Linked DNA regions of Homo sapiens. The protein of the gene in region 1 purifies or fractionates together with the protein of each later gene. This does not show direct contact. Each region holds a gene or a part of one and is shown in the gene's direction. Other genes may lie near its edges.

What was found.
Region 2: the proteins of C9orf78 (region 1) and AAR2 purify together in Homo sapiens (affinity purification with mass spectrometry; 3 studies listed by BioGRID and IntAct, with this or other methods). This does not show direct contact.
Region 3: the proteins of C9orf78 (region 1) and EFTUD2 purify together in Homo sapiens (affinity purification with mass spectrometry; 3 studies listed by BioGRID and IntAct, with this or other methods). This does not show direct contact.
Region 4: the proteins of C9orf78 (region 1) and EIF2B3 purify together in Homo sapiens (affinity purification with mass spectrometry, with the first as the bait; one large-scale study listed by BioGRID). This does not show direct contact.
Region 5: the proteins of C9orf78 (region 1) and PRPF6 purify together in Homo sapiens (affinity purification with mass spectrometry; 2 studies listed by BioGRID and IntAct, with this or other methods). This does not show direct contact.
Region 6: the proteins of C9orf78 (region 1) and PRPF8 purify together in Homo sapiens (affinity purification with mass spectrometry; 4 studies listed by BioGRID and IntAct, with this or other methods). This does not show direct contact.
Region 7: the proteins of C9orf78 (region 1) and ELOA purify together in Homo sapiens (affinity purification with mass spectrometry, with the first as the bait; one large-scale study listed by BioGRID). This does not show direct contact.

What each region holds. Positions count from the first base shown.
Region 1 is NC_000009.12:129,829,231-129,832,950, reverse strand, and holds part of C9orf78 (splicing factor C9orf78), read left to right. Parts: intron 1-977; coding exon 978-1,055; intron 1,056-1,882; coding exon 1,883-2,080; intron 2,081-3,409; coding exon 3,410-3,546; intron 3,547-3,647; coding exon 3,648-3,720. UniProt on the Homo sapiens protein: Plays a role in pre-mRNA splicing by promoting usage of the upstream 3'-splice site at alternative NAGNAG splice sites; these are sites featuring alternative acceptor motifs separated by only a few nucleotides. May also modulate exon inclusion events.
Region 2 is NC_000020.11:36,242,561-36,247,037, forward strand, and holds part of AAR2 (protein AAR2 homolog), read left to right. Parts: intron 1-2,136; coding exon 2,137-2,366; intron 2,367-4,477. UniProt on the Homo sapiens protein: Component of the U5 snRNP complex that is required for spliceosome assembly and for pre-mRNA splicing.
Region 3 is NC_000017.11:44,889,144-44,893,620, reverse strand, and holds part of EFTUD2 (116 kDa U5 small nuclear ribonucleoprotein component), read left to right. Parts: intron 1-4,477. UniProt on the Homo sapiens protein: Required for pre-mRNA splicing as component of the spliceosome, including pre-catalytic, catalytic and post-catalytic spliceosomal complexes. Component of the U5 snRNP and the U4/U6-U5 tri-snRNP complex, a building block of the spliceosome.
Region 4 is NC_000001.11:44,853,451-44,857,927, reverse strand, and holds part of EIF2B3 (translation initiation factor eIF2B subunit gamma), read left to right. Parts: intron 1-120; coding exon 121-224; intron 225-4,477. UniProt on the Homo sapiens protein: Acts as a component of the translation initiation factor 2B (eIF2B) complex, which catalyzes the exchange of GDP for GTP on the eukaryotic initiation factor 2 (eIF2) complex gamma subunit.
Region 5 is NC_000020.11:63,990,776-63,995,252, forward strand, and holds part of PRPF6 (pre-mRNA-processing factor 6), read left to right. Parts: intron 1-2,631; coding exon 2,632-2,710; intron 2,711-4,140; coding exon 4,141-4,317; intron 4,318-4,477. UniProt on the Homo sapiens protein: Involved in pre-mRNA splicing as component of the U4/U6-U5 tri-snRNP complex, one of the building blocks of the spliceosome.
Region 6 is NC_000017.11:1,653,310-1,657,786, reverse strand, and holds part of PRPF8 (pre-mRNA-processing-splicing factor 8), read left to right. Parts: intron 1-1,025; coding exon 1,026-1,139; intron 1,140-1,221; coding exon 1,222-1,395; intron 1,396-2,243; coding exon 2,244-2,437; intron 2,438-3,770; coding exon 3,771-4,010; intron 4,011-4,103; coding exon 4,104-4,245; intron 4,246-4,477. UniProt on the Homo sapiens protein: Plays a role in pre-mRNA splicing as core component of precatalytic, catalytic and postcatalytic spliceosomal complexes, both of the predominant U2-type spliceosome and the minor U12-type spliceosome.
Region 7 is NC_000001.11:23,753,103-23,757,579, forward strand, and holds part of ELOA (elongin-A), read left to right. Parts: intron 1-997; coding exon 998-1,153; intron 1,154-1,260; coding exon 1,261-1,358; intron 1,359-2,740; coding exon 2,741-2,921; intron 2,922-3,171; coding exon 3,172-3,283; intron 3,284-3,850; coding exon 3,851-4,023; intron 4,024-4,477. UniProt on the Homo sapiens protein: SIII, also known as elongin, is a general transcription elongation factor that increases the RNA polymerase II transcription elongation past template-encoded arresting sites.

The sequences.
Region 1 (3,720 bases):
GGGTGTGGTGGCATGTGCCTGTAGTCCCAGCTATTCAGGAAATTAAAGTGGGAGAATCACTTGAGTCAGGGAGGTTGAGGCTAGAGTGAGCCGCGATCACACCACTGCACTCCAGCCTGGGTGACAGAGAAAGACCCTGTCTCAAAAAAATAAAATAAGTGAACCTATGGGGAAGTTTCATATAAAAACAATTAACAAAAATAATAAATTCAGGCCAGCTGCGGTGGCTCATGCCTGTAATGCCAGCACTTCAGGAGGCTGAGGCAGGCGGATTACCTGAGGTCAGGAGTTCGAGACCAGCCTGACCAACATGGTGAAACACTGTCGCTATTAAAAATACAAAAGTTAGCCGGGCATTGTGGTGGGCACCCGTAATCCCAGCTACTCAGGAGGGTGAGGCAGGAGAATTGCTTGAACTCGGGAGGCAGAGGTTGCAGTGAGCTGAGATTGCGCCACTGCACTTCAGCCTGGGTGACAGAGTGAGACTCCGTCTCAATAAATTAATAAATCAAACATTCAAATAATTCAAAAATTAAAAAAATAAAAGTTTACTGTGTACTTTTGTGACAACTATATAGCATTTACATTGTATTTGGTATTATAAGTAATCTAGAGATGATTTAAAGCAGATGGTAGTGTGTGTGTAGGTTAGATGCAGATATTATACTATTTTATGTAAGGGACTTCACTATCTGCAGATTTTGGTATCCTTGAGGGACACTAGAACCAATCCCCCATGGATACCTAAGGATAAGTGTATCCACTCAATCCTTGGAGGTATCACTAGCAGCCAACAGTTTGCTTGCATATATTTCTAGAGTTTCTTTTCTTTACATATACTACGGCATTTTTTTTTTTTTGCCAACTGTAAATAGGATATTATAAATGCTTATGTCTTTGTTTTCTTCTTAGAACATAAAACTCAGCCTCATTGAGTTGTGACTTGAAAGCTCTGCCTCATTGTTCTCTCCCTCCAGGATCAGTGAGGAGGAGGACCTGCACCTGGGGACATCGTTTTCTGCAGAAACCAACCGAAGGGATGAGGATGCAGACATGTAAGTGTCAGTCTGTTTGGCTGTGAGCAGTTGGGGCTGGACTCCAGTCAGAGTCCAAGATATTTAGTCAACAGATGACATTTCTAGAATTTTCTAGAAGATGTCAAAGTTGGCCCCTCTCTTTCTACTTCCCAGCTTAAGAACTTTGAAAACCTCTTAAAAGGTCTTTTCAGGCCGGGCACGGTAGCTCTCACCTGTAGTCCCAGCACTTTGGGAGGCCGAGGCAGGTGGATCATCTGAGGTGGGGAGTTCGAGACCAGACTGACCAACATGGAGAAACCCCGTCCCTACTGAAAATACAAAATTAGCTGGGTGTGGTAGTGGGCACCTGTAATCCCAGCTACTCGGGAGGCTGAGGCAGGAGAATTGCTTGAACCTGGGAGGCAGAGCTTGCGGCGAGCCAAGATCTCGCCATTGCACTCCAGCCTGGGCAACAAGAGTGAAACTCCGTCTCCAAAATATAAAAAATAAAAACTTGTTTTCAAAGGTGGTTTCATGACTAGTAATATTTCCCCAAAACATTGCAGGGATAAAACATGGGCTTGCCCACTTTTTATTTTGCCAACAAAGCTATTGGCAAACTATCATCTTTCTGTCTTCAAAGAACCTTGTACATCATAACACCAATAGATTAGTGGGACATAACCTCATAGGTTGGTGCTTCTTTAGAAAATTTCTAACTTGATGAAAAAACTCAAGTTATTTTTTTTCTCGTTTCTCCATGGACTGTCACTGGTCTGCGGGCCAGTGTTGGGGACCACTGATTTAGAGGACACCTGGTGTGTGTTTCCCACCCCTCCCTGAGGCCTCTGGGTTTCTCACTTCAGGATGAAGTACATTGAGACAGAGCTAAAGAAGAGGAAAGGGATCGTGGAACATGAGGAACAGAAAGTTAAGCCAAAGAATGCAGAGGACTGTCTTTATGAACTTCCAGAAAACATCCGTGTTTCCTCAGCAAAGAAGACCGAGGAGATGCTTTCCAACCAGATGCTGAGTGGCATTCCTGAGGTGGACCTGGGCATCGAGTATGTTTGAGACCCCTAGGCAGAAGACACAGTGCTTTCCAGTTAAAAGTTATGGGGGACAGGCCAGGCACGGTGGCTCATGCCTGTAATCCTAGCACTTTGGGAGGCTGAGGCGGGTGGATCACGAGGTCAGGAGTTCAAGACCAGCCCGGCCAAGATGGTCGAACCCCGTCTCTACTAAAAATACAAAAATTAGCTGGGCATGGTGGCAGGCACCTGTAGTCCAGCTACTTGGGAGGCTGAGGCAGGAAATTGCTTGAACCCTGAAGGTGGAGGTTGCAGTGAGGCGAGATCATGCCACTGCACTCCAGTCTGGCGACAGAGCAAGACTCCATCTCAAAAAAAAAGGAAAAAAAAATTTATGGGGGACAGGTATGGTGGCTGATGCCTATAAGCCTATAATCCCAGTACTTGGGAGGCCAAGGCAGGAGGATCACGTGAGGCCAGGAGATCAGCCTGAGAAATATAGTCAGACTCCTGTCTCTCAAAAAAATTTAAAAAATTAGCTGGGCTGTCACTTGAGCTCAGGAGTTGAGGCTACAGTGAGCCATGATTGCACCACTGCACACCAGTCTGGGTGACAGAGTAAGACCCTTTAAAAAAAAAAAAAAAAGGCCAGACATGGTGACTTGTGCCTGTTATCCTAGCTCTTTGGGAGGCCAAGGTGGGAGGATCACTTGAGCCCAGGAGTTCAAGACCAGCCTGGGCAATGTAATGAGACCCCATGTTCTTATCTGTGTCCTTAGAATCCTACAAATACAAATGAGATTGTCCCTGGCAGGTTGTTGCTAGAAGTTTCGCTGAAGGCTTGATCAGAGTAGTAAGGGCCCCTGACTGCTGGAAGCAAAAGTGGTTCTTTAGCGTGTTACAGCTGTTCAGCTGTATCAGGCCCTTTATTCTTCTGTTTTCTTCTAGCAGGAGCCATGTTAAAGGCTCACTCACCCCTTCTCCCCATGATCCTTCTTAAAATATCCACTTTAAAAGGGAATTGTTATGGAAGAGGTACAATTGTTAGAATAATCTTCTGGTACAGTAGAAAGCTGGGAGGCTTCTGGGCTCTTTTCTGGCCTTTACAAACTTTGAGCCTTAAGCATTTTACTTCTCTGAAGCTCAATTTGCTCTTGATCAGAAGAGCAGAGTAACTGTGGTTCTCCGACAGCCGTGAGAGTCCCGTGAGAATGTGACTACAAGTGTGCTTGATAAAGTGGAGAGCTGTGCCCCAGGACACATGATTTTCTTATGTACTGCTGGGCTGCCAGCCTCACCACTCATGTCTGAGTAGTAAGGTGCTATCATCTTCTAAGTGGTGTGGTTTCTTTCTCTCCATAGTGCTAAAATAAAAAATATCATTTCCACGGAGGATGCCAAGGCCCGTCTGCTGGCAGAGCAGCAGAACAAGAAGAAAGACAGCGAGACCTCCTTCGTGCCTACCAACATGGCTGTGAATTATGTGCAGCACAACAGATGTAAGCCCCTCGGAGAGCAGTCTTGCCCCCATTCCCCTATTTGGGCTGAGATCCCTAGGAACCTCATGTTCTAACGTGTCCCCTGGTCTCTTTGGGTCCAGTTTATCATGAGGAGCTCAACGCGCCCATACGGAGAAACAAAGAAGAGCCCAAGGCCCGGCCCTTGAGAGTAGG
Region 2 (4,477 bases), on another chromosome or scaffold:
TGTTTTGTATTTTTAGTAGAGACAGGGTTTCACCATGTTGGCCAGGATGGTCTCGATCTCCTGACCTCATGATCCACCTGCCTCAGCCTCCCAAAGTGCTGGAATTACAGGCGTGAGCCACCGCACCCAGCCTTTAACAGGTACATCTTAATGCATTAGTATTTTCGTATAATAAGTAACTTTTAAAAGTCTGGCTTAAAAATGAATAGAAATCCTGTCTTTCTACCTCTTAAACATTTCAATTCTTCAAAATATATCTTGCGAAAAGGTCTGTTACAGGAATAACTTTGTTGGTTTTTTTTTTTTTTTTTTTTTGAGACAAGGTCTCACTCTGTGACATGGGCTGGAGTACAGTGGCATGATCACAACTCACTGCAGCCTCAACCTCCTGGGCTCAACTGAGCCTCCCACCTCAGCCTCCCAAGTAGGTGGGACTTCAGGTGTGTGCCACCACGCCCAGCTAATTATTTTTGGTTGAGATAGGGTCTCCCTGTGTTGCCCAAGCTTGTCTCAAACTCCTGAACTCAAGCAATCCTCCTCCACTGACCTCTCAAAGGGCTAGGACTATCCCTGCCACCGCACCTGTCCAGGGATAATTTTGAATCTACATCACACCTCTTTGAAAAATATAATTTAATTTTAGATAAAGTCAGAAATGCACAAATTTAATAAATGTCCTAAACGCAAATAATAGGCTAATATTTAGTTTCACAAACCAAGTAAAGCCAGCTGAAGAAGCAAATCATTAACCTATATTATACAAAGAAAATTTGACTATATTTGAAAATATTGGTCAGAAATCCAAAATTTCTAAACCAGGTAGCTATTCACACAAATCAAACTTAGTTCCGTATGCTTAGGAACAGGGAGCTAGTTTTTCCAGGTCTCTGGAGGTGGCACAGATCAAACGCCATGCATTTAAAGAGGTATTTGGTGTTGAGTACATCTCTTCTTTTTATGGCCCACATGTATGTATACCTCATTAAATTTCCAGCCACCTTTGAAGTAGAGAGAATGCCTGTGATGAGGAGCAGTATTCTGTGGTAACCAGAGACCCAGTTACTTGCCCAGGGACAGTGGTGTCTGGATCATCAGGTCTCTGTTTGAGATGGGCATCTGATAGAAATTGGGAACATAATATTTTTTGAGTGCTACTTTGTGCCAGGTCTTATTCTAAATGCTATACATGTACTATATCCATTCATGTAATCTTTGCTACAACCCTCAAATAAGGAAATTGAGGCCTTAATAGATTGAGTAACTTGCCCAAGGTCACACAGCTGCTAAGTGGCAGAGCTAAGATTTGAAGCTAGGCAGTTTGGCTCCAGAGCCCATGCTCTTAGCCACCAAGCTGCTCATAGAGATTAAATCACAGAGCCCTGTGGTTAAGCAAACAAAAATAATCTGCCTGGCAGGCTGACCCTGGAATAAGTACTCATGAATTTTTCTTTTGTGGGAGGTTCCAGAACTGTTCCCACCCAATGGAGAATCTGTTTTATCTTTCCGTTGCCCACATTGTGAAGCATTAGATGTGTGGCCTTGGGCAAGCCCTTGACCTTATCTATGAAATGAGGCAAATACCATCTTCCTGATCGCCTTGTGGAGTTGGGCTGAGGGTTACATGGTATAGTGCAGTATTTCCTGACCCTGGAGCAGACCATCCACATTAGAATCACCTGGGGAGCTTGTTAGAGCTACAGATACGAAGGCCCCATCATCTCTCCTCCACCAGAACCTCTGAGGGTGAAGCTTGGGTAGCTTTACTTTTAACAGACTCTCAGTGATTCTGATGGGCAGCCAGGTTTGAAATCCACTTGGCATAATATCCATGAACACATTTTGTAAACTTAAAATGCCAGGCAAATACTGGGAATACCTCTTCTCTAGCAGTCTGATTTTATAGAAATCCAAAGCCACAGGTTGGTTTCCCATGGCTTGAATTCATAGCGGTTCAGCAGACATCTATTGAGTACCTGTTAGGTGCAAAATCTCCTGCCAGGCTCTGCAGGAGTGACAAGGATAAAAGCTCATCTGTTGCTGAGGTCCAGTGGAATTCATGGCCTTGTGAATAGTGATGGAGAGTGTCAGCTGGTCCTCCTCTCCCTCAGAATCACTTCTCCTCTCTGCACCTTTCAGGTGAACTCCAGTTTGCTTTTGTGTGCTTCCTGCTGGGGAATGTGTACGAGGCATTTGAGCATTGGAAGCGGCTCCTGAACCTCCTGTGCCGGTCAGAAGCAGCCATGATGAAGCACCACACCCTCTACATCAACCTCATCTCCATCCTGTACCACCAGCTTGGTGAGATCCCCGCTGACTTCTTCGTAGACATTGTCTCCCAAGACAACTTCCTCACCAGCACCTTACAGGTGAGCAGTCTTTCTGACTGAGCTGATGCACATGTGGGTCAGAATTGAGGCAACAGTATGTGTTTTGTTTCTCGCTATTCTTCCATGACCCCAAAATTTTTAAATTTCAGTTTCCTAGTCTTGGGATATTTCCTGCTTTTCTCTCTCTTACTCAATTGTAAGTGCCTCTATGCCAGAAATTTTCTCTCTGTACCACCCTCTCCCTACACCTCGTCCCCAGAGTGCCTAACACTGGGGTACTTGGATTTGAATTCCTCCCACTGCTTTGGTTTACTCAGCTTAAAACAGCGTTTCTTTCTCCCTGTAGCCATGAATTGCTACAACCCAGTAAAGCAGAATTTTGAAGTTTGTTATTCCCAGTGAAACATCTGCAGCTCCTTAGATCTCATTTAAGCATTAAAATAACTTTGATTTCCTGTTCAAACAAAATGTGCCAGTTTCTGCAGAGATTCTATGACAGAAAAAGTGAAATTTGCTTTTAACTTGGCAATTAAATTTTCATTATGAGTGGTAATTAGGAAAGAAGCTTCAAACAACTTACAATCTTCATCCTATGCTATTTCCTCCCTTTGCAAACAGATTAGTCCTTTATGTACTTGGGACAGCCTCTGTCACTCACATTGTGTAACTTTCTCAAGAATAGAAGAGGCAGAAGCTGCCACTGTCAGTTTCCATACTTTCCCTCCCATGAGCTTCTTTCTTCTCCCTGTGTGTAATACCCCCATGAGGCCTGCTCCATATAAGGCAGCCTTTCACCAACCTTCCAATCCCACTCGGGGTAACAGAAGGGACGAGCATTCGTTAAATATTGGGGCTGGGCGTGGTGGTTCATGACTGTAATCCCAACACTTTGGGAGGTGAAGGCAGGAGGATCACTTGAGCCCAGGAATTAAAGACCAGCTTGGGCAATATAGTGAGACCCCGTCTCTCCAAAAATTAAAAAATTGGCCAGGTATGGTCATGTGCACCTGTAGTCCTAGCCACTTGGGAGGCTGAGACAGGAGGATCACTTAGCCCAGGAGTTTGAGGCTATAGTGAGCAATGATTATGATCGTGCCACTGCACTCCAGCCTGGGCAACAGAGTGAGACCCTGTTCACTCATTGAATCCCTTTGGAGCCTTGTAAGATGGGGGTATTATTCCCATTTTACAAATGGGAACACTTGAGAATGGTTAAATCACTTACTTGAAGTCATACAGCTGGCAGGTGGAGGTCAGGATTTGTACCCAGGCCTGAGTCTTGGTTTCCTGCCTGTGCTTATGCCCTTGTGTAGTGAACACAGTGTGAATCCCCCAGAAAGGATTCTTGATTGACATCAGTGAAGACTTCATCGAGGTCCTGTTTCTCAGAGGTACAGAACGCTTTTCTAAAGCCAACCTACTGTTGGATGAGTCCCTGTGAGCAGGCATCTGACTTAAAGCTGGCAGTTGAAGGACCTGTGTAAACCATGGCAATGAGTCAGTCAAGCGCATGATTTGAGCCTGGTCTGTTCCACTCAGAAGAGCTATAAAACTGTCCTTTTACTGGTTCTTCATATAACAGAGAAATTAAACCCCTTTGTCCTTCCTCTGTGGGGAAAATTTTCCCCAAAGGTACTGGTTATGGGTTGTGAGGCAGTGTGAGGAGGCATTAGCCTGCTAACTTGCCTCTGGCAGTGGCTGCTTCCCTCCTGATGCACGTTGATGCGTCGCACAGACACAGGAGGGCCACGGTGTTGCTGGCTGTCCAGACCATTGTTAGCACAACCAGCAGCTGAGCTCTATAATTGCCAGGCTTTGTTGCCAGCAATGATTTACAAAGCAGAAAGTGCCCAGCTGGATTGCTAGATGCCCAGGTGGGTTGTGCAAAGCTGATGGTTGGAAACATTCAGTCTTTGAACTTTTCACCAAGAAAATTCGATGTCATTATTTGGAAAAATCCAGGGCATGTGCCAAAACAAAACAAAACAAAACAAAAAACACATGTCTTTGAGCATTCTTCATATATAACATTCTACTGAAAGTGTTGAGGAATATATATACATGTGAGTTAGCCAGGGTTCCTGCCCTCAAGGGATTTGTTCATTGATTTAGCAGGTAATTGCTGAGCATCTGCTGTATAGAAGACTCTG
Region 3 (4,477 bases), on another chromosome or scaffold:
GAATATGTAGTTTCATTGATGAGATGGTTTTGTAATCTGAGCTCTAGTTGATCATTAGTTCTTCCATTTCCCTGAAGTGTCTTTTAACAGTCATGAATAATTCCCACTTGGAAAAGATACTCAACTCTTCCAGCTACAGCTGCACTGGGAGCTCCCTCACAAGCTCAGATTTTCAGAGATGCATAAAAGCAATAGAAAGGGCCCGGGCGTGGTGGCTCATGCCTGTAATCCCAGCACCTTGGGAGGCCAAGGTGGTCAGATCACACGGTCAGGAGTTCAAGACTAACCTGACCAATACGGTGAAACCCCGTCTCTACTAAAAATACAAATATTAGCCAGGCTTGTTGGCGCGTGCCTGTAGTCCCAGCTGCTTGGAAGGCCGAGGCAGGAAAATCACTTGAACACGGGAGGCGGAGGTTGCAGTGAGCCAAGATTGTGCCACTGTACTCCAGCCTGGGCAACAAGAGTGAGACTCGGTCTCAAACAAAAAAAAAAAAAAATGACTGTTGAGTACTTAGGAAGCTAGCATGAGTTTTATAAAAATAATTTTCTCTTGATAGGATTACTAGGTTGAGCCACAGGTCAGGGGCATGCTGTGGACATGATGTATCTTGATTTGGGCAAGACATTTGAAGTTTTTTATTGATGTCTTATAAACCAGCATTTTTTTTTCTTTTTGAAAATAAGGTTTACAGTCAGGTGTGGTGGCTTACGCCTGTAATTCCAGCATTTTGGGAGGCTGAGGCGCTTGAGCCCAGGAGTTTGAGACCAGCCTGGCCAACATGGTGAAACCCCGTCTCTACTAAAATACAAAAATTAGCTGGGTGTGGTGGTACATGCCTGTAATCCCAGCTACTCAGGAGGCTGAGGCAGGAGAATTGCTTGAACCCGGGAGGTAGACGTTGCAGTGAGCTGAGATCGAGCCACTGCTCTCCAGCCTGGGTGACACAGCGAGACTCCATCTCAAAAAAAAAAAAAAAAAAAAAAAAGGTTTTACAGTGTGTTTTTCTTTAATTATATAGGTAATTCATGAATACATTCTCATTCAAACCATGTTGATAGAAAGGTTTCCTTTGTTCTCATTCCATTCACTCTTCTTCCCCAGTTAACCTCTGTAACTCATGATGTCCTAGTGAAAAGAACATGGGCTGCATCATAATACAATTAGAGGAGGTCACAGCTGGTTGAACAGTGGGACACAAAGATTTTTGATTAATGGGTCACCAGCAGAGCTCTTGTGACATGTCCTAGGCATCTGTGTTTGGTCTTGTCCTTTTCAACTTAAAATATATTTAAATAGAGACAAGGTTTCACTATGTTGCTCAGGCTGGTGTTGAACTCCTGGGCTCAAGCAATCTGCCTGCCTTGGCCTCCCAAAATGCTGAGATTACATAGGGGAACCATTGTGCCCCGTCATTCAGCCTATTAGTGACTTGGGTAAAGATAGAGAACAGAGGTTTATCTAATTTGCACATGACATAAAACTAATGTATTGGATAACAGAATCTAAATTCAAAGTGATCCCAACATACATGAATTTGGGACTAAAAACCCAGTAATAGGCCAGGCGTGGTGGCTCACACATGTAATCCCAGCACTTTGGGAGGCTGAAGCGGGCAGATCACTTGAGGTCAGGAGTTCGAGACCAGCCTGGCCAACGTGGTGTGAAACCGTCTCTACTAAAAATACAAAAAATTAGTTGGGTGTGCTGGTGCGCGCCTGTAATCCCAGCTACTCGGGAGGCTGAGGCAGGATTTTTTTGTTGGGAGTGAGGGCAGGTGGAATTGGTAAGTAACAGAGTTTCTTTTTAGGGTGATGAAAATGATCTAAAATTGATCGTGGTGATGGTTGCACAATTCTGTGAATATACTAAAAACTATTATGCACTTAAAATGGATAGATTGTATGGAATGTGAATTATATCTCTATAAAGCTATTAACAAAAAAATTTTTAAAATAAAGAATAATGGGCTAAACACTTAGTGGCTCACACCTATAACCCCAGCACTTTGGAAGGTCAAGGCAGGAGGATCACTTGAACCGAGGAGTTTGAGACCAGCTTGGGCAATGTAGTGAGACCCCATTTCTACAAAAAATTTAAAAATTAGCCAAGCATGGTGGTACATGCCAGTAGTCACAGCTACTCAGGAGACTGAGGCAGGAGGATGGCTTGAGCCCAGGAATTTGAGGTAGTGGTGAGCTATGGTCATGCCACTGCACTCTAGCGTGGGCAACAGAGTGAGACCCTATGAAGGTTTTTACCTCAGTACAAACAGTTGAGTCACTCATACTCTTTAGTTCTTACTCCTCAGTGTCATTGCTGTGAGAGCTCTGCTGTTATTTAATTAATTTGTTAATTCCCATTTATCTCATTCCCATACCTGCCACCACAGTTCTTTGTAATTTATGTATGTTTCTTTTTCTATGAGTTGCATAGTGTGTGTGTATTTTAAGTAAATGGTATCATTGTCTGCATTGTTCTGTTTCTTTTCCCACTCAGCATCATGATGAGTGGTGCATTTTAGGGTTTCTCCCTGTTGCTGTGTGTACATCTAGTCTGTGGGAACTGACTGCTACTCGGTTTGCCCTGGTGACATTCCTCTCTTAGTGATAGACACCAAGGTTACCTGTCACCAGCCTTCCCTCGCCGTAATTAATAATCCAGTGTACATTCTCATATGTGTCCCTTTATGCAATGTGGAAAAATTTCTTTGGGTTATATTCCCAAGAGCAGAGTTGCTGGTTGTAGGATATTATATCTCTATCTACATATGCTTATTGTATTTATACTTAGTTAATATGTTTATACTAAGTACTGTCAGATTGCCCTTTAAAATGGCTGTACTGGTCTACCCTCTTTCCAGCAGAATGAGGGTTATAGCCTCCTAGTCCACAAGATGCATAGATTTATTATTATTGTTATTTTTTGAGATGGAGTTTCGCTCTTGTTGCCCAGGCTGGAGTGCAATGGCATGATCTCGGCTCACTGTAACCTCCACCTCCCGGGTTCAAGCGATTCTCCTGCCTCAGCCTCCCGAGTAGCTGGGATTACAGGCATGTGCGTCCACGCCCGGCTAGTTTTGTATTTTTAGTAGAGATGGGGTTTCTCCGTGTTGGTCAGACTGGTCTCGAACTCCCAACCTTAGGTGATCTGCCCGCCTCAGCCTCTCAAAGTGCTGGGATTACAGGTGTGAGCCACCGCACCTGGACAGATTTTTTTTTTTAATTATATTGAGGTATATAACAGTAGAGATGCATAGATTTTGGTAATGGGGACAGGAAAGAAAGATGTCCCTTCTAAGGCTGGGTGCGTTGGCTCATGCCTGTAATCCCAGCACTTTGGGAGGCTGAGGTGGGCAGATGACCTGAGGTCAAGAGTTCGAGACCAGTCTGGCCAACGTGATGAAACCCTGTCTCTATTAAAAATACAAAAATACAAAAATACAAAAATTAGCTGGGCGTGGTGGCATGCGCCTGGGTGGCATGCCCAGAGGCTAAGGCAGGAGAATCTCTTGAACCCAGGAGGCAGAGGTTGCAGTGAGCTGAGATCGCGCCACTGCACTCCAGCCCCGGCAAACAAGAGTGAAACTCCATCTCAAAAAAATAAAAAAATTAAAAATTAGAAAAAGCAATGATAAAAGAATATTTGTTTAGTTTTATTTGTTTAGACTTGTTGAGCTACTGTAGACTCGGATAGAGATAATTACAGGCAGTCAGAAATTATTATATAAAATCCTGCAGTTAGATTCATAATATATTCAGCAGTATGGGGCAGGAGAAAACTGGCTTGATAGCTATTTGGAGCCACCACCAGTAGGATATATGTGGCTGCCAAAAGAGCTAATGTAATCTTAGGCCACTTTAGTAGAAGTAGAGTGTAAGATGGTAGGAGGTAGCCGGTCTCACCACTGGAGGGTTTTGTGTTCTTAAGGAAGAGGTTGGCATGCTGGAATTTGTGTGAAGGAAAACAAGCACCCAGCAGTCCCTCTACCCACCTGCCTACATCTGTACTCATATACGATGCCTTCCCTTCCGTTCTTACGAATGATTTGTTCATGTTTCTGTCTACTAGAAACTAATCCCATCCCTTCTCACCACTCAAGACCTTTGGCAATTCTGCCCTCTCTCTCCTGTGCCATCAGTTTTCCCTGTCTACAGGATCATCCCCATCAGCATACACAGATAAAATGTCATTTCATCCTAAAACTCTCTCTTGACCCCATATCCCCCTTCATTTACCTCCAGATTTTCCCTGCTTTCCAATGCAGCACATCCCGAATTAGGTGGTCATGGTTGCTGTCTCCAGATCCTCTCCTCCCATTTTCCTTCAAACCCACTTCCATCCTTTTGCCTCTCGCATTCCACAGACTGCTCTTGTCAAGGTCACCACTGACCTCTGCCTTGCGAAATCCCAAGGTCAGTTCCCAGTCCTCAGCCCACATGACCTGCCTGCATCCGTCTGTCCCAGCCGATCATT
Region 4 (4,477 bases), on another chromosome or scaffold:
GCCATTAACTGGACTGCCCAGCTGTTCCTGGCCTAGGGAGGAGCCAGAACCCCCAACCAATAGTAATGAGGATGGTGATGCGAGCCTTGGGTCCTCCCTAACTTGGCTACTGTGTTACAGAAGCAATATCCAAGGCAGTGTCATCTGCAACAATGCTGTGATCGAGAAGGGTGCAGACATCAAGGACTGCTTGATTGGAAGTGGCCAGAGGATTGAAGCCAAAGGTAAACCAGATTACAATCACAGATTCCATTTTTACTTCTCACACCAGCACTGATAATGCCAAAGGCTGGTGAGGATGTGGGAAACAAGCACATACGTACACTGCGGGCGAGAACATAAATTGATAAAGCCATCTTTGGAGAGCAGTTGACATCACTGTCAATTTTTTTTTTTTTTTCGGAGTTTCACTCTTGTTGCCCAGGCTGGTGTGCAATGGTGCAATCTCAGCTCACTGAAACCTCCGCCTCCCGGGTTCAAGCGATTCTTCTGCCTCAGTCTCCTGAGTCGCTGGAATTACAGGCATGTGCCACCACGCCCAGCTAATTTTTTGTATTTTTAGTAGAGATGGCGTTTCTCCATGTTGGTCAGGCTGGTTGCGAACTCCCGACCTCAGGAGAACTGCCCACCTCAGCCTCCCAAAGTGCTGGGATTACAGGCGTAAGCCACCGCACCTGGCATCACTGTCAAATTTTTTTACTTTGACTTAACAGTTTCATTTCTAGAAATTAATCTTATAGATAAGCTTATACATGTATGCACCCTTAATCTCAAAACCTTGAAAACATATCAATAGATCTAATGGCCCAGGTTGGCACCAATACTGTACAGTGATTCTTGAAGCCTAGGCACAGTGGTTCATGCCAATAATCCCAACACTTTGGGAGGCTGAAATGTGAGGATCGCTTGAGCCTAGACAACATAGCAGGAACCCATCTCTACAAAAAAATTAAAAATTAGCCAGGCACAGTGGCACACACGTGTTGTCCCAGCTACTCAAGAGGCTGAGGCAGGAGGATTGCTTGAGCCTGAGAGGTCAAGGCTGCAGTGAGCTGAGATCGCACCACTGCACTCTAGCCTGGGTGACAGAGGGAGACCCTGTCTTAAAAATAATAATAAAAATTAAAATGACTGATTGCTTTTGGTATTATTCCTAAACCTAAAATAAGGTGGGGAGGGGAGTTGCTGAAGGAATTAACCCCACCAACTCTGTAGACGCCACATCATTTCCTTCTTCAGTTTCTTCCCCCTTCCCTTTTTTAAAGTCATATGCCTTCCTTTTGGGCTTTAGAATCAAACAGACCTCAGTTCACATCTCAACTCAACTTAGTGGCTGTGCACCAAGTGAAATTTTTAATCATTAAGCCCTCAGATTTTCCTTTTTTTTTTTTTTTTTTTTAATTTTAATTTTTTGAGACAGAGTCTTGCTCTGTCGCCTAGGCTGGAGTACAGTAGTGCTATCTCAGCTCACTGCAGCCTCCTCCTCCTGGATCCAGGTGGTTCTTGTGCCTCAGCCTCCCGGGCAGCTGAGACTACAGGGGCACACCACCACCCTTGGCTAATTTTTGTGTTTTTAGTAGAGACAGGGTTTTGCAATGTCACCCAGGCTGGTCTTGAACTCCTGGCCTCAAGCAAGCCACCCACCTCACTTTCCCAAAGTGCTGAGATTACAGGTATGAGCCACTGCGCCCAGCCCCAGATTTTCTTAATTAGACAATTGGGACAATAATAGCTACCTTGGAGAATTGTGAGAATTACATATAATTAAATGACAGGTATATGCACTACTCCTTGAGTGTACCAAAAGACTTAGAATTCCTCATACATACCGTGCCATTATACCTCTCCATGCTTTTACATGTGCTCTCTCTAGATTTCCTCTCTTGAAGACTCCGACCAAGTGTTTTCTCCTTTGTAGAACCTTCTCTGCCTCTTCCCATGACTCCCCATAGCAGAACTACACATTCCTTCCACTGTGTCCTTGAGCTTTGCCACACCTTTATTAAAGTATGTTTCACAAGCCATGGCAATTATCCGTGAATCAGCCTTCCCTACTAAGATCCTCAAGGTCAGCTGGGCATGATGGCTCACACCTGTAATCCTAGCACTTTGGGAGGCCGAAGTGGGCGGATCACCTGAGGTCAGGAGTTCGAAACCAGCCTGACCAACATGGTGAAACCCCGTCTCTACTAAAAATACAAAAAATAGCCAAGTGTGGTAGTGCATGCCTGTAATCCCAGCTACCTGGGAGGTTGAGGCAGGAGAATTGCTGGAACCCAGGAGGCGGAGGCTGCAGTGAGCTGAGACTGCACCACTACACTCCAGTCTGGGTGACAGAGCAAGACTCCATCTCAAAAAAAAAAAAAAGATCCTCAAGGTCGATTGTCTCATAACTATATGCATCCCTAGCTCTCAGAACAGGTCCTGATTTATGGTAAATGCTCAGAAGGGGAAAAGAGTGAATGAATGAATGTTGGATCCATGAAACATATTTTGGGGGATTTCAGGGTATAAAGTTAGGGTTCCAAGAAAGGCCTCTGTGCGATGGTTGCAATCATCATGAGATGGGCTTCATAAACTCCTGGGCTTTCTGGCTTTAATTAACACTATGTGTCCACCTTTTAGCAAGGAGACCCTTTAATGGTCCTGCTGAAGGAGGGCTGGCCAGGGAAGTCATCTTGTCTGGGCTCTAAACTGGACAACCCCACCACTTCCTTCTCTCTGTCCTCTGCTGGAAGGACCAGTGCATCCAGCACAGTGGTCAGTGCCCTCCTGCCACAGGAACTCCCTGGCCAGTTGCCTTTTTCCACTATTACTTCTTCTTTTTTTTTTTTTTTTGAGACTGAGCCGTATGGTGAAAGCAAACTCCTAACCATCAGTGCAGCACTCAAGACTTGTTACTATAGGTGACCTAGGCAAACACCAACAACTCACATCCTTACCAGCAAAGAGCTCAATAGATGGCAAAGTCTTCCGTCAGTCTTCCTCACATGAAGGGGTTTCAGGAAAAAACATTCATCCTAAGAAATAATGCAGTCTCAGCCGGATGCGGTGGCTCATGCCTGTAATCCCAGCACTTTGGGAGGCTGAGGCGGGTGGATCCCTGTGGTCAAGAGTTCGAGACCAGCCTGACCAACATGGAGAAACCCCATCTCTACTAAAAATACAAAAAATTAGCCGGGCGTGGTAGTGCATGCCTGTAATCCCAGCTACTTGGAAGGCTGAGGCAGAAGAATTGCCTGAACCTGGAAGGCAGAGGTTGTGGTGAGCTGAGATCACGCCATCACACTCCATCTTGGGCAACAAGAGCGAAACTCCATCTCAAAAAAAAAAAAAAAGACATAATGCAGTCTCCTCTCCAAATTCTAATCATTTTCATGCTCCAGAGTCACCACATCCATAGCAGTCTTTTTCCCCAAAAGTATGGCTCGTAACTCAGTGTAGGCCTCCCTACCCTCTTCTAGCACCAACACGAAAACAAGCCATTTTATAACAACTCTGACTTTTCTCACCCCATCCCAATACTCTCATTGGTTATCTCTGGCAAAAATACTGGCAGCCAAATTTGACCTTCTCAAGCAGTAGAATGGCTACAGCTAACAGTCAAAACCTAAAAAATGGCTGGGTACAGAGGCTGTAGCTCACGCCTGTAATCCCAGCACTTTGGGAGACCAAGGCGAGTGGATCACTTGAGGTCAAGAGTTCGAGACCAGCCCAGCCAACATGGTGAAACCTCATCTCTACTAAAAATACAAAAATTAGCTGTGTGTGATGGCACACACCTGTAATCCCAGCTACTTGGGAGGCTGAGGCAGGAGAATCACTTGAACCTGGGAGGCGGAGGTTGCAGTGAGCAGAGATCATACCACTGCACTCCAGCCTGGGCAACAGAGCAAGACTCCATTCAGAAAAAAAAAAAACAAAAAAAAAAAACACTAACTGCTAAAAGCATGCTTCATCTGAGTCTCTTCTTACAGTCAGTGACAGAACTTGGATCTCTTCCCTATGGCCAGAGTGATCAGTTCTTTGACCATGAAAGTAGACCTGGTATAGGTCAGGCTGTTGATGTATACTTGACACAGGTCAAATCCTCCTGGCCAGCAGGAAGCTTTCCCAGTTTCCCAACAGTGCACCTTTTATTTGTGATGTTTTTCCCTTCTATCCCATTGCTATTTTCCCAACTTATCATCCTCCCTTGTATTTTTCCCCTTGGGATCTTTCCCAACCTGATTCCAGCCCAAAGATTTTCCAGTGTATTTACTGGACCCTACTCCCATCCCTGACCAAGCATCACTAGCTTTGCTTAGTTTTTTGTTTTTTTGAGACAGGGTCTTACTCTGTCACCCAGGCTGAAGTGTAGGTGGCACAGTCACAGCTCACTGTAGCCTTGACCTCCCGGGCTCAAGCGACCTCCCTCCCTGGCCCCTGAGTAGCTGAGACCACAGGCATATGCCACCACATCCAGCTAATATTTTTA
Region 5 (4,477 bases), on another chromosome or scaffold:
CTGGGATTACAGGCATGCACCGCCACGCCCGGCTGATTTTTGTAGAGATGGGTATTTTTAGTAGAGACGGGGTTTCACCAATGTTAGCCAGGCTGGTCTTGAACTCCTGCCCTTGTGATCTGCCTGCCTTGGCCTCCCAAGGTGCTGGGATTACAGGCTTGAGCCACCACGCCAGGCTCACACCCAGCTAATTTTTGTCTATGTTGCCCAGGCTGGTCTTGAACTCCTGGCCTCAAGTGATCCACCTGCCTCCCCTAACCTTGGCCTCCCAAAGTGCTAGGATTACAGGCATGAGTTACTACACTCAGCCCTACATTTTAAAAATTGATTGGAACCTCCAGGGTTAATGCATTTTAAAAAACATCAGGCTGGGTGCAGTGGCTTACATGTGTAATCCTAGTACCTTGGGAGGCCAAGGCAGGAGGACCACTTGAGTCTAGGAGTTCGAGACCAGCCTGGGCAACATGGTGAAACCCTGTCTCTACAAAAACAAAATTAAAATTAGCCAGTTGCACATGCCCGTAGTTCCAGCTACATTCCCAAGGCTGAGGCAGGAGCATCGCTTGAGCCTAGGAATTAGAGGCTACAGTGAGCTATGCTTATGCCACTGTGCTCCAGCCTGGGCAACAGACCAAGGCCGTGTCTCTAAAACAAAAACAAAACAAAAAACAGCAGGTGACACGGACCCATGAAGAAAGCCATTAAATTAAATGTTTTTAAAAAGTAGTGTACTTGGCCGAGCACGGTGGCTCACACCTATAATCCCAGCACTTTGGGAGGCCGAGGCGGGCAGATCATGAGGTCAGGAGATCGAGACCATCCTGGCCAACATGGTGAAACCCCGTCTCTACTAACAATACAAAAATTAGCTGGGTGTGGTGGTGCATGCCTGTAATCCCAGCTACTCAGGAGGCTGAGGCACGAGAATCACTTAAACCCAGGAGGCGGAGGTTGCAGTGAGCTGAGATCGCACCACTGCATTCCAGCCTGGTGACAGAGTGAGACTGTCTCAAAGAAAAAAAAAAAAGTAGTGTACTTATTAAAACTTTTTATTCTGAAAACTGTCGTAATACAAACAAGTAGGAAGAACAGTACTGTGAATACCATATCCTCACATGTAGTCTCAACACCGAAGTGCAATTACATGGGTTATGTTCTGGCACATAGAGCTGTGCAGCTGAGCTGAGTTGGTTAGAGGTGAACTATTTACTTGGAAGAGAAGGAAGCAAGGAAGGAAAGGTGGGATGAGTTCAGTAGAGTGTTTGGAGTGTTTGGTGGTAACTAGGATAGTTACTGTTTTTCCTTGTAGGTGTTTTTTTGTTTTGTTTTGTTTTGTTTTGTTTTGCGACAAGGTCTCGCTCTGTCGCCCAGGCTAGATTGGCTCACTGCAACCTCCACTTCCTGGATTCAGATGATTCTCCTGCCTCAGTCTCCCAGGTAGCTGGGGATTACAGGTGCCCACCACCATGCCCAGCTAATTTTTATTTTTATTTTTATTTTTTTGAGACGAAGTTTCACTCTTGTCACCCAGGCTGGAGTGCAATGGCATGATCTTGGCTCCCTGCAACTTCCACCTCCCAGGTTCAAGCAATTCTCCTACCTCAGCCTCCTGAGTAGCTGGGATAACAGGCATGCGCCACCACGCCTGGCTAATTTTCATATTTTTAGTATAGATGGGGTTTTACCACATTGGCCAGGCTTGAACTCCTGACCTCAGGTGATCTGCCCACCTCGGCCTCCCAAAGCGTTGGGATTACAGGTGTAAGCCACCACGCCTGGCCTTCTTAGGTGTTTATGGGATGGTCCTACCTTTGGGATTTTGTGAATTTTCAAGCAGTAAATATACACATGTCCAAATGGAGGTATTTAGATCAAAGTAAGATCTTTTTTTTTTATTTTAATGAATTTCTACATGTTTTTATTTGGTGGATAATTGAATTAGTAGACTTACGAATGTATTTATATTTATTTATTTAGAGGCAGAGTCTCTCTGTGTTGCCCAGGCTGGAGTGCAGTGGTGCGATCTTGGCTCACTGCACCCTCTGCCTCCTGGGTTCAAATGATTCTGCCTCAGCCTCCCAAGTAGCTGTGATTACAGGTGTGTGCTACCATGCCCAGCTAAGAATGTATTCATAGTTACCTTAAAATATATTTGATTTGGGCTGGGTGCGGTGGCTCACACCTGTAATCCCAGCACTTTGGGAGGCCAAGGTGGGTAGATCACAAGGTCAGGAGTTCGAGAACAGCCTGGCCAGGATGGTGAAACCCCGTCTCTACTAAAAACACAAAAATTAGCTGGGAGTGGTGGCGAGCACCTGTAATCCCAGCTACTTGGGAGGCTGAGGCAGGAAAATCACTTAAACCCAGGAGGTGGAGGTTGCAGTGAGCTGAGATTGCGCCACTGCACTTTAGCCTGGGTGACAGAGCAAGACTCCATCTCAAAAAAAAAAATGTGTGTGTGTGTGTGTGTGTGTGTGTGTGTGTGTGTATATGTATATATATATATATATATTTGATTTAGCTACTAAGAGTATGGAATTGTTCTTTTTGGTGATTTAATTGAGATGGATAATAAATTTGCTTCAGAACAGACATGCAGTGTTTCTGATGTGTGCATGTTTTATTTCCTAGGGAGCAAAGGGAGAAAGAAGAAATAGAGAAATATCGTATGGAACGCCCCAAAATCCAACAGCAGTTCTCAGACCTCAAGGTGAGCCGATGAAGCGGTGAATGGTGTGCGGTTTCTAACGCTCTCACCCTAACCCGCAGAGACTCAGACTGCTCTTACGTGGAATTTATGAGACTTTACGTTTTTAATTTAGGGGGTCATTGCTTAGAAGAAGAAAGTGTTTGCTTCAGTATGTTTAATTATATGTGTGTAAAAAAAAACCCTTCCCCTACTGTAAAAGGTAGGACAAATGAACTTATTTTCTTTGTAATTTTGACTCCATTTATACCTAAGATTTTCTTTTTTCTTTTTTCTTTTTTTTTTTGGAGGCAGTCTGGCTCTGTTGCCCTGGCTGGAGTGCAGTGGCGTGGTCTCAGCTCACTGCAACCTTCACCTCCTAGGTTCAAGCAATTCTTGTGCCTCAGCCTCCTAAGTAGCTGGGATTACAGGTGCCTGCCACCATACCCAGCTAATTTTTGTATTTTTAGTAAAGACAGGATTTCGCCATGTGTACCAGGCTGGTCTCAAACTCCTGAACTCTAGTGATCTGCCCACCTCAGCCTCCCAAAGGGCTGGGATTACAGGCGTGAGCCACCACGTCTGGCCCCATTTATACGTAAGATTTTCTAAACTGTGTCCCCTGGGCTTTGAGAGAATAATTTACATTTTAGTGAAGTTGAACAGATCCAATAAATTGATTTTTCTTTTCTTTTTCTTTTTTTTTTTTTTTTGAGACGGAGTTTGGCTCTTGTTGCCCAGGCTGGAGTGCAATGACGCGATCTCAGCTCACCGCAACCTCCGCCTCCCAGGTTCAAACGATTCTCCTGCCTCAGCCTCCCTAGTAGCTGGGATTACAGGCATGTGCCACCATGCCCGGCTAATTTTGTATTTTTAGTAGAGATGGGGTTTCTCCATGTTGGTCAGGCTGGTCTCGAACTCCCGACCTCAGGTGATCTGCCCGCTTTGGCCTCCCAAAGTGCTGGGATTAACAGGCATGAGCCACCGTGCCCGGCCTAAATTGATTTTTCTAAGTGAAGTAGAAAACTATTTTTGGGGCTGGGTACAGTGGCTCACATCTGTAATCTCAGCACTTTGGGAGGCTGAGGTGGGAGGATCACTTGAGCCCAGGAGTTTGAGACCAGCCTTGGGGAGAACCTGTCTTTACAAAAAATAAAAACTTAGCCAGGCATGGTGGCCCACGCTTGTGGTCCCAGCAACTTGAGAAGCTGAAGTGGGAGGATCACTTGAGCCTGGGAGGTTGAGGCTGCAGTGAGCTGTGATTGTGCCACTGAATCCAGCCTGGGCAACAGAATGAGACCCATCTCAAAACAAAAGTAAAAAACAGTTGCTGCATCCAAATCCCTTCTAAAGCTTGGTGATCTGGAGGCTAGGGGTGAGAGAGGGCATGGTCCTACCTGGGCACATGAAATTCTGTCAGAGAATTAATGTTTTTGGGGGCTGGATATTTCCAGAGGAAGTTGGCAGAAGTCACAGAAGAAGAGTGGCTGAGCATCCCCGAGGTTGGCGATGCCAGAAATAAACGTCAGCGGAACCCACGCTATGAGAAGCTGACCCCTGTTCCTGACAGTTTCTTTGCCAAACATTTACAGACCGGAGAGAACCATACCTCAGTGGATCCCCGACAAACTGTGAGCTTCCAAAAAAGGGCACATGTGGCCCATTTAGTCCTGTTAGATCAGTGGCAGGAATGGTGGGTGGTGTTGGATTCAATGCTTCTGCAGGTCATGGCTATGCTGTGGCCGAGTCTGTCTGCACAGCTGTGCATATGTCAGGCCACTGGGGAAGTAT
Region 6 (4,477 bases), on another chromosome or scaffold:
ACGTGTTAGCCAGGATGGTCTCGATCTCCTGACTTTGTGATCTGCCTGCCTCTGCCTCTGCCTCCCAAAGTGCTCGGATTACAGGTGTGAGCCACTGCTCCTGGCCAGCAATGCATATTCTCTTTTTTTTTTTTTTTTTTTGAGACGGAGTCTTGCTCTGTTGCCCAGGCTGGAATGCAGTGGCCTGATTTCAGCTCACTGCAAGCTCCGCCTCCCAGGTTCACGCCATTCTCCTGCCTCAGCCTCCCGAGTAGCTGGGACTACAGGTGCCCGCCACCACGCCCGGCTAAATTTTTTGTATTTTTAGTAGAGACGGGGTTTCACCATGTTGGCCAGGATGGTCTCAATCTCCTGACCTCGTGATCCGCCCGCCTTGGCCTCTCAAAGTGCTGGGATTACAGGCTTGAGCCACCGTGCCCGGCCCAGCAACGCATATTCTTGAAACATCCACTTTGACCAAATCTCTTCTCTACCTCACAACTCTTGCTGAATTAACTCTTCTTTAGCTTCCTAGACGTTCAACATCTGGCTGGGCTGTATCTGTCCAGCCAGTTTCTCTTCCTTTACATTTATAGCATGTTTCATCTTACATTCAGTCCAGGATCTTAGTAGCCCAAACCCCTGATGCTCATCTCCAAATCTGTGTTTTGCTTGTATTTTTCTTTCTAGAATGAACTCCCCTCTTTGCTCTGTTAATCACAGTCCCTCCTTAAGACACGTTTTTTTGTGCAGCTTTTTTCTGATCCTAGTAGCCTTAATTTCTTTTGTTCCTGAACTCTGTAAAACAGTGTATAGTTTAGCACATACTCATGTGTCAGCTTGTGGTATTGTCTTGTTGAAAGGGGCTGTCAGCCTGGTCATTGGACACGGCCATTTGATACTCTTTGTACCTTCTAAGTGCCTAACATTTAACATCAGTGTTCAATAGAAACGTAGTTGGATTATTTCAAAACTAGGATATTCTGTTCTAGTTGATCTGGGAGGGTAGAGACTAAATTTCCATTTTCTTCTCTCTTGCTTTTAAGTTGGCTAAGTGGAAGACAGCTGAGGAGGTGGCCGCCCTGATCCGATCTCTGCCTGTGGAGGAGCAGCCCAAGCAGATCATTGTCACCAGGAAGGGCATGCTGGACCCACTGGAGGTAAGAGGGTGGGGTGGGGTAGGAGAAAAGAGACCTTGAGACCTTCAGGCTGTTTCTCATCTTGGACTTGATCTTGTCTTAGGTGCACTTACTGGACTTCCCCAATATTGTCATCAAAGGATCGGAGCTCCAACTCCCTTTCCAGGCGTGTCTCAAGGTGGAAAAATTCGGGGATCTCATCCTTAAAGCCACTGAGCCCCAGATGGTTCTCTTCAACCTCTATGACGACTGGCTCAAGACTATTTCATCTTACACGGTATGAACCTCGGGAAGAGAAGATCGCTGGAGGAGGAGCGGGTTTAGGGTTAGGAGAAGATCCTGTGTCAGGTTTTTGCCATTTTCACATTTTTAGCCTATAGATTGGGTGGGAACTCTGTTGACTTTCATGAGAGTTTAAGACCTTAAAGTTAAAAATCAACTCTTGGGGCCGGGCGTGGTGGCTCACGCCCGTAATCCCAGCACTTTGGGAGGCTGAGTTGGGTGAATCACCTGAGGTCAGGAGTTTGAGATCAGGCTGGCCAACATGACGAGACCCCATCTCTACTAAAAATACAACAAAATTAGCCGAGTGTGCTGGGATGCACCTGTAGTCCCAGCTACTCGGGAGGCTGAGGCACCAGAATCACTGGAACCCAGGAGGCAGAGGTTGCAGTGAGCCGAGATGGCACCATTGCACTCCAGCCTGGGCGACAGAGTAAGACTGTCTAAAAAAAAAAAAAAAAAGGCCGGGCGCAGTGGCTCACGCCTGTAATCCCAGCACTTTGGGAGGCCGAGGCGGCGGATCACGAGGTCAGGAGATTGAGACCATCCTGGCTAACACAGTGAAACCCCATCTCTACTAAAAATACAAAAAATTAGCCGGGCGTGGTGGCAGGTGCCTGTCATCCCAGCTATTCGGGAGGCTGAGGCAGGAGAATGGTATGAACCTGGGAGGCGGAGCTTGCAGTGAGCCGAGATCATGCCACTGCACTCCAGCCTGGGCGACAGAGCAAGACTCTGTCTCAAAAGAAAAAAAAAAAATTCTTGGGTTTCATGAAAGGTTAGGATTAAAGTGGGAGAGCCTCAAGCAGCTGACCTACCCCACTCTTCCAAATCTTTTCCCAGGCCTTCTCCCGTCTCATCCTGATTCTGCGTGCCCTACATGTGAACAACGATCGGGCAAAAGTGATCCTGAAGCCAGACAAGACTACTATTACAGAACCACACCACATCTGGCCCACTCTGACTGACGAAGAATGGATCAAGGTCGAGGTGCAGCTCAAGGATCTGATCTTGGCTGACTACGGCAAGAAAAACAAGTGAGCAGTGCTGGTGGGGACACAGACAGGAGGTCTATATACGGTTTTCTGGGGTTTTTTGGAAGCACTTAGGCTTAGAAGTTTCTCAAGAAGGCCAGGCGCGGTGGCTCATGCCTGTAATCCCAGCACTTTGGGAGGCCAAGGTGGGTAGATCATTTGAGGTCAGGAGTTTGAAACCATCCTGGCCAACGTGGTGAAACTCCGTCTCTACTAAAAATACAAAAGTTAGCCGGGTGCGATGGCGCCTACCTGTAATCCCAGCTACTCGGGAGGCTGAGGCAGGAGAATTGCTTGAACCTGGGGGCAGAGGTTGCAGTGAGCCGAGATCATGCCACTGCACTCCAGCCTGGGCGACAAGAGTGAGACTGTCTCCAAAAAAAAAAAAAAAAAAGACGTTTCTCAAGAAATTATCTTGTCTTAGCCAGGCTTGAGTGCTCATGCTAGTAATACCAGCACTTTGGGAGGCCAAGGTGGGAGGATTGCATGAGCCAGGAGTTGAAACCAGCCTGATCAACAAGAGACTGACGCCATCTCTACCAAAAAAAAAAAATTTAAAACAGGTGTGGTGGTACACGCTTGTAGTCCCAGCTTCTTGGAGGCTGAGGCAGGAGGCTTGCTTGAGCCCGGGGGTTTGAGGCTGCAGTGAGCCATGATGATGCCACTGTACTCCAGCCTGGGTAACAGAGCGAGACTCTTGTCTTGAAAACAAGGAAAGAAATTATCTTACAGAGTCTCGAGGAAGAGAGATACAGCAGTGTCTTCGAATAGTATGGGAAGCATCCCTGTTTTAGGGCTTCAGTCTGACTCTTGGCCATTGTTTCTCACTGTTGCCATTTCAAACAGGGCATTTCTTTACTGTCCATACATGGGAAGAATTTTGAACATCCGAGACCCTAAGTATCCGAGACTGCTGCCAACACACACACACACCTTCCTCCCCTCGTCTCCCTCCCTGTCATCGTGGCAACCAAAATTATCCATAGGGTGACGGACAATACCACCTCTGATTAAGAACCAGTATTCTAGGGTTTCTGGGGTTTCCATTTCTGAGAACAGTTCCATGCCAGAGCATTGTTTTGGTCAAGGAAGCGTAGGGTTTATGGATGCTAAACAGTGGGAAGGTGCACACGCAGTGTGCTGTCCCGCTTGGATCTGACGAATCTTGGAAGTGTTAGTGCACCTCCGTTTCACACTTCCTGTAGAAGCAGCTCTTGTGGATTGTCTGGGGCGTGAGTATAGGCTGTCCTGTCCTACCAAGTTACACCCTTTCCATTGAGGCAGAAGTGACCAAGGGGAAGGGATCCTTGTAATATAACCCACACCATCCCCACAGTGTGAACGTGGCATCACTGACACAATCAGAAATTCGAGACATCATCCTGGGTATGGAGATCTCGGCACCGTCACAGCAGCGGCAGCAGATCGCTGAGATCGAGAAGCAGACCAAGGAACAATCGCAGCTGACGGCAACACAGACTCGCACTGTCAACAAGCATGGCGATGAGATCATCACCTCCACCACCAGCAACTATGAGACCCAGACTTTCTCATCCAAGACTGAGTGGAGGGTCAGGTACTGTCGGGCAAGAGGGTGGGGATGGAAAGGCCGGCTGCACTACCTAAGGTGCTGGGCTGAGCGATGCTGACACTCCCTGCCTGTTTTTAGGGCCATCTCTGCTGCCAACCTGCACCTAAGGACCAATCACATCTATGTTTCATCTGACGACATCAAGGAGACTGGCTACACCTACATCCTTCCCAAGAATGTGCTTAAGAAGTTCATCTGCATATCTGACCTTCGGGCCCAAGTGAGTAAGTGGACTCAGCTAGGCCACAGTGTGTGCCCAACTCATTTTGTGCCTAAAACTCAGACCTGAGATTGTCTGGAACTTGAGATGCTGGTTTCAAGATTCATGGATGAGTAATTATACAAGGATAGCCAAAACAACGAGGTGGGTTTTGGCCCCATGAGATAGCAAAAGCTGTGGCAGCTGAGAGAAGGTAGTAATTGTAGTATTGGCCTGATAGTATTTGGAAGAG
Region 7 (4,477 bases), on another chromosome or scaffold:
TTGCATCACTGCACTCTAGCTTGGGTGACAGAGCAAGACTGTTTCAAAAACAAACAAAAAAACTATCACCATAACATCAGATTTTTGATGCATTTCCTAAGTGCATAGACTCTGAAGTTTGATGGCTTGGGTTTGAATCCCAACTCTGGTTTCTGCAAGTTATATGACCTTGAGAAATATCTTAATTTCTTTGGACCTTAGTTGTATATATTGTGTAAATGGGAGTTATAATGGTATCTGCCCCATAGGGCTCAGTTTAATGAATTCAGAAGTGATGCCTTTTTGCTCTGGGTTTATCACATAGTAATTGTTCAGTAAATTGCTGCTGCTGTTATTAGCAGCCCTTTATCCTATGTGTTACATAGGATTTTTGTCTGAAAGAAAAAAATGTCTAATTTTCATAGCAAAAGAAGTAGAAGCCACATAAGGGTCTATCAGCAGGAGACTAACAGATAAATCATGGTTCATCTACACAGTGGCATCCTATGCCACAGTAAAAAAAAAATGTGGAAAGTCTATGCACTGACATGGAATGATCTCTCAGATGTGGCAAATGAAAAAAAGCAATGTATGTAGTGAGTATGTTATTAATTGATTCATTGGCTTAAAAGGAATAAGATACATTTGCTTTTTTTTGTTGTTGCTGTTGAGAGTCTTGCTGTGTTACTCAGGCTGGAGTGCAGTAGCTCCATCTTGGCTCACTGCAGCCTCCACCTCCTAGGTTCAAGCAATTCCTCTGCCTCAGCCTCCTGAGTAGCTGGGACTACAGGTGCATGTTGGGCAGGCTGATCTCGAACTCTTGACCTCAGATGATTCATGTGCCTTGGCCTCCTAAAGTGCTGGGATTACAGGAGCTTATTTTTAAATTCTCTGGAAGGATCTACAAAAATCTGTAGCGTGGATTGCCATTGGGAAAGGGAAGTAGGAGGCTGAAGGGGGTAGAAGGAGAGTTTTCACTGGATCACTTAGGGCCTTTTGTGTTTTTCTTGCCCTATAGCGTTCTCTTCACCCCAGGAAGAAGAAGAAGCTGGATTTACTGGGCGCAGAATGAATTCCAAGATGCAGGTGTATTCTGGTTCCAAGTGTGCCTATCTCCCTAAAATGATGACCTTGCACCAGCAATGCATCCGAGTACTTAAAAACAACATCGATTGTAAGTCACACGCTTCTCTCTAGCTCTCAAGCACATTGTAGCACTTGGACCTTATCACTGGGTGGCTTGGCTGCTACTCAGTGTCTTCACCTTTGGTTTCTCTGCAGCAATCTTTGAAGTGGGAGGAGTCCCATACTCTGTTCTTGAACCCGTTTTGGAGAGGTGTACACCTGATCAGCTGTATCGCATAGAGGAATACAATCATGTGAGTATTCTGTTTGGGTGGGAAGAGGGCAGTTTTCTGGCTTGTACCTCCAGAAATAGCTTTGTCCCTGTGACTCCGCTGTGGCTGAAGGGCAGATCAGTGGTCAGAGCATTGTTCTGGATATATTTGGTTTGCCACTGGGCCTTTAAACAAGCATGTTATTAGCACTTGCTCCTGGCACCTTAAGTGGGCCTCTTGGGCTAGGATCAGGGTGGGATTCAAAGGGAGAAGAAAAACACTTAACATCTCCCTTGAGCTTGCCTAGTCATGAAGGTAAAGGGAGAATTCTGGCAGCAGAGTAGCTGGGACCCAGGGCGGGGAAAGCACTTTGTGTTGACACTCTGACATCTGGTGATTGGCTGGATGTCTCTTAAGAAACATCAAGATTTATCCAGAATCCTCCTTAGGATGTAGGGTATACACATTTGATTGCATCAGCTGTCTCTCTTTAATTCTGAAAGTTCTATGACCTAACACCTTTTTTTTTTTTTTTGGAGATAGGGTCTACCTCTGTTGCTTCGACTGCAGTACAGAGGCCTAATCATGGCTTACTGCATCCTTGAACTCCTGGGCTTAAGTGATCCTCCCAAGTAGCTGGGACTACAGGCACATACCACCACAGCTGGCTAATATTTTTATTTTTTAGAGAGATGGACTCTCAGACTCTTGGCCTCCTGAAGTGCTGGGATTACAGGCATGAGCCAACGCGCCTGGCCAATAACTTAACATCCTTCTTAGGTTGCCCCTTTGCCATCACAGTTCAGCGTAGTGTTGGGAAGTACCTGATTTGACTTGATCGCAGTTCTACCCTTTGCTGATTTTCTAAAGGAAAAGACTGATGTTACACAGATTTTTGTGATATTCTGTCACAGCCACCAAAAGCAACTAGCATAGTGCCTCACACTTCGCATTTTTAAAATTTAGGGAGTTATTTTTTTCCTAGAATTGTGGTATTTTAACATACTACTAAGATGAAGACCAAAAAATTTTTGGGAAACTGGTCACTCCTAGGTAATTAAATAATCAGAAAAAGATATGAGGCTGGGCATGGTGACACACGCCTGTAATCCCAGCACTCTGGGAGGCCAAGGTGGGCGGATTATCTGAGGTCAGGAGTTCGAGACCAGCCTGGACAACATGGCAAAACCCCATCTCTACTGAAAATATAAAATAGCTGGGCGTGGTGGTAAGCACCTGTAGTCCTGGCTACTTGAGAGGCTGAGGCGTGAGAATCGCTTGAACCCAGGAGGCAAGGGTTGCAGTGAACCAAAATTGCACCACTGCACTGCAGTCTACACGACAGAGCAAGACTCTGTCTCAAAAAAAAAAAAAAAATATGGAAAAGTGCTTGTACACAAATGATGTCCTGGTTCTGGTTTCAGGTATTAATTGAAGAAACAGATCAATTATGGAAAGTTCATTGTCACCGAGACTTTAAGGAAGAAAGACCCGAAGAGTATGAGTCGTGGCGAGAGATGTACCTGCGGCTTCAGGACGCCCGAGAGCAGCGGCTACGAGTACTAACAAAGAATATCCAGTTCGCACATGCCAATAAGCCCAAAGGTAACAGAGACGGGAGAGCTGGGGGAGAACTGGCAGGATGAGTGTTCTGGTCAATAGCAGGGTGTTGGTGGGCTTGGCTGGTGTAGGACTGCTTGCCCCTACATCAGGTAGCAGGGTGGGTATTTCTTCTGCCACCGCCCATTCTACCCTACAAGTGGGGTTTCAGGGCACTCAAAAAGCCCGTGGATTATTTAAATAACAGTAGCATCTCTGCTCAAGAAGGCAGATGTTCATCTCCATAATTCCACAGGCCGACAAGCAAAGATGGCCTTTGTCAACTCTGTGGCCAAGCCACCTCGTGACGTCCGGAGGAGGCAGGAAAAGTTTGGAACGGGAGGAGCAGCTGTCCCTGAGAAAATCAAGTAAGATCTGTGTTCTTACCTGGCTTTTGTGTGCTATCAACCCTTAGAGGTAGCCATAGCGGCAGGAAGCAAATTGCTTTTGGTGAAAGTGAGGCAGTGCAGACTGTGGGCTCTGGAGGCAGACCTCATCAGCTCAGCACTTCCCTCACCTCCCTCAGCCTCCGCTTCTTGGACTGCAGTGCAAGGTGATAATTACCCCTGCCCTAGGGTAGTCAAGATTAAATGGAGAGCAAAGCCTGGCTTATGGGAAACATTCCCTTATGCTTTCCCTTTTCCCATCTAAACAAAAAACACATTTCTGCAATGATTGTTATTTTGTCTAAGCCACATTAGCCTTTTCAAAATACAGATTTATACCAAAACAGTGAAAAGTTAGTTGAGATTATCATTTTTTCTGAAAGGATAATGGAGACATCTCTGAGCCACCACCAGAATCCAGGGTGATAGGGTCCATTGGTCAAAGCCACAAACAGGGTGAGTCATCCTCACACAGGCCAGCTTCAGGCTGTTCATGCTCAGGGCAGATTTCTTGTGCTCATGCCTAACCAGTGTTGTCCTGTGTTGCAGGATCAAGCCAGCCCCGTACCCCATGGGAAGCAGCCATGCTTCCGCCAGTAGCATCAGCTTTAACCCCAGCCCTGAGGAGCCGGCCTATGATGGCCCAAGCACCAGCAGTGCCCACTTGGCACCAGTGGTCAGCAGCACTGTTTCCTATGATCCTAGGAAACCCACTGTGAAGAGTAAGTAACTTGGAGTTCCTGCTCAAATATTATTTCAGCACTAGTTTTTAACTCTCAATGTCATTATTCACTGTATTACATTTTGTGGACTGCATGTTGCATGTACATGATGCCTTGCACATAGCTGGTCTGAATGTCAGTCCCTCCTTCCCCCTGCTTTGTCCATAGTGCATTATATCTCTTAAATAGTTATAGTGAGTCTGGGTGCAGTGGCTCATGCCTGTAATCCCAGCACTTTGGCAGGCTGAGGCAGGAGGATCCCTTGAATCCAGGAGTTCAAGACCAGCCTGGACAACATAATGAGACCCTCTACAAAAAATTAAAAAATAGGGCATAGTGGTACACACCTGTAGTCCCACCTACTCAGGAGACTGAGGTGGGAGGATTTTTTGAGATGGAGTCTCGCTCTGTCACCCAGGCTGGAGTGCAGTGGCACAATCTCAGCTCACTGCAA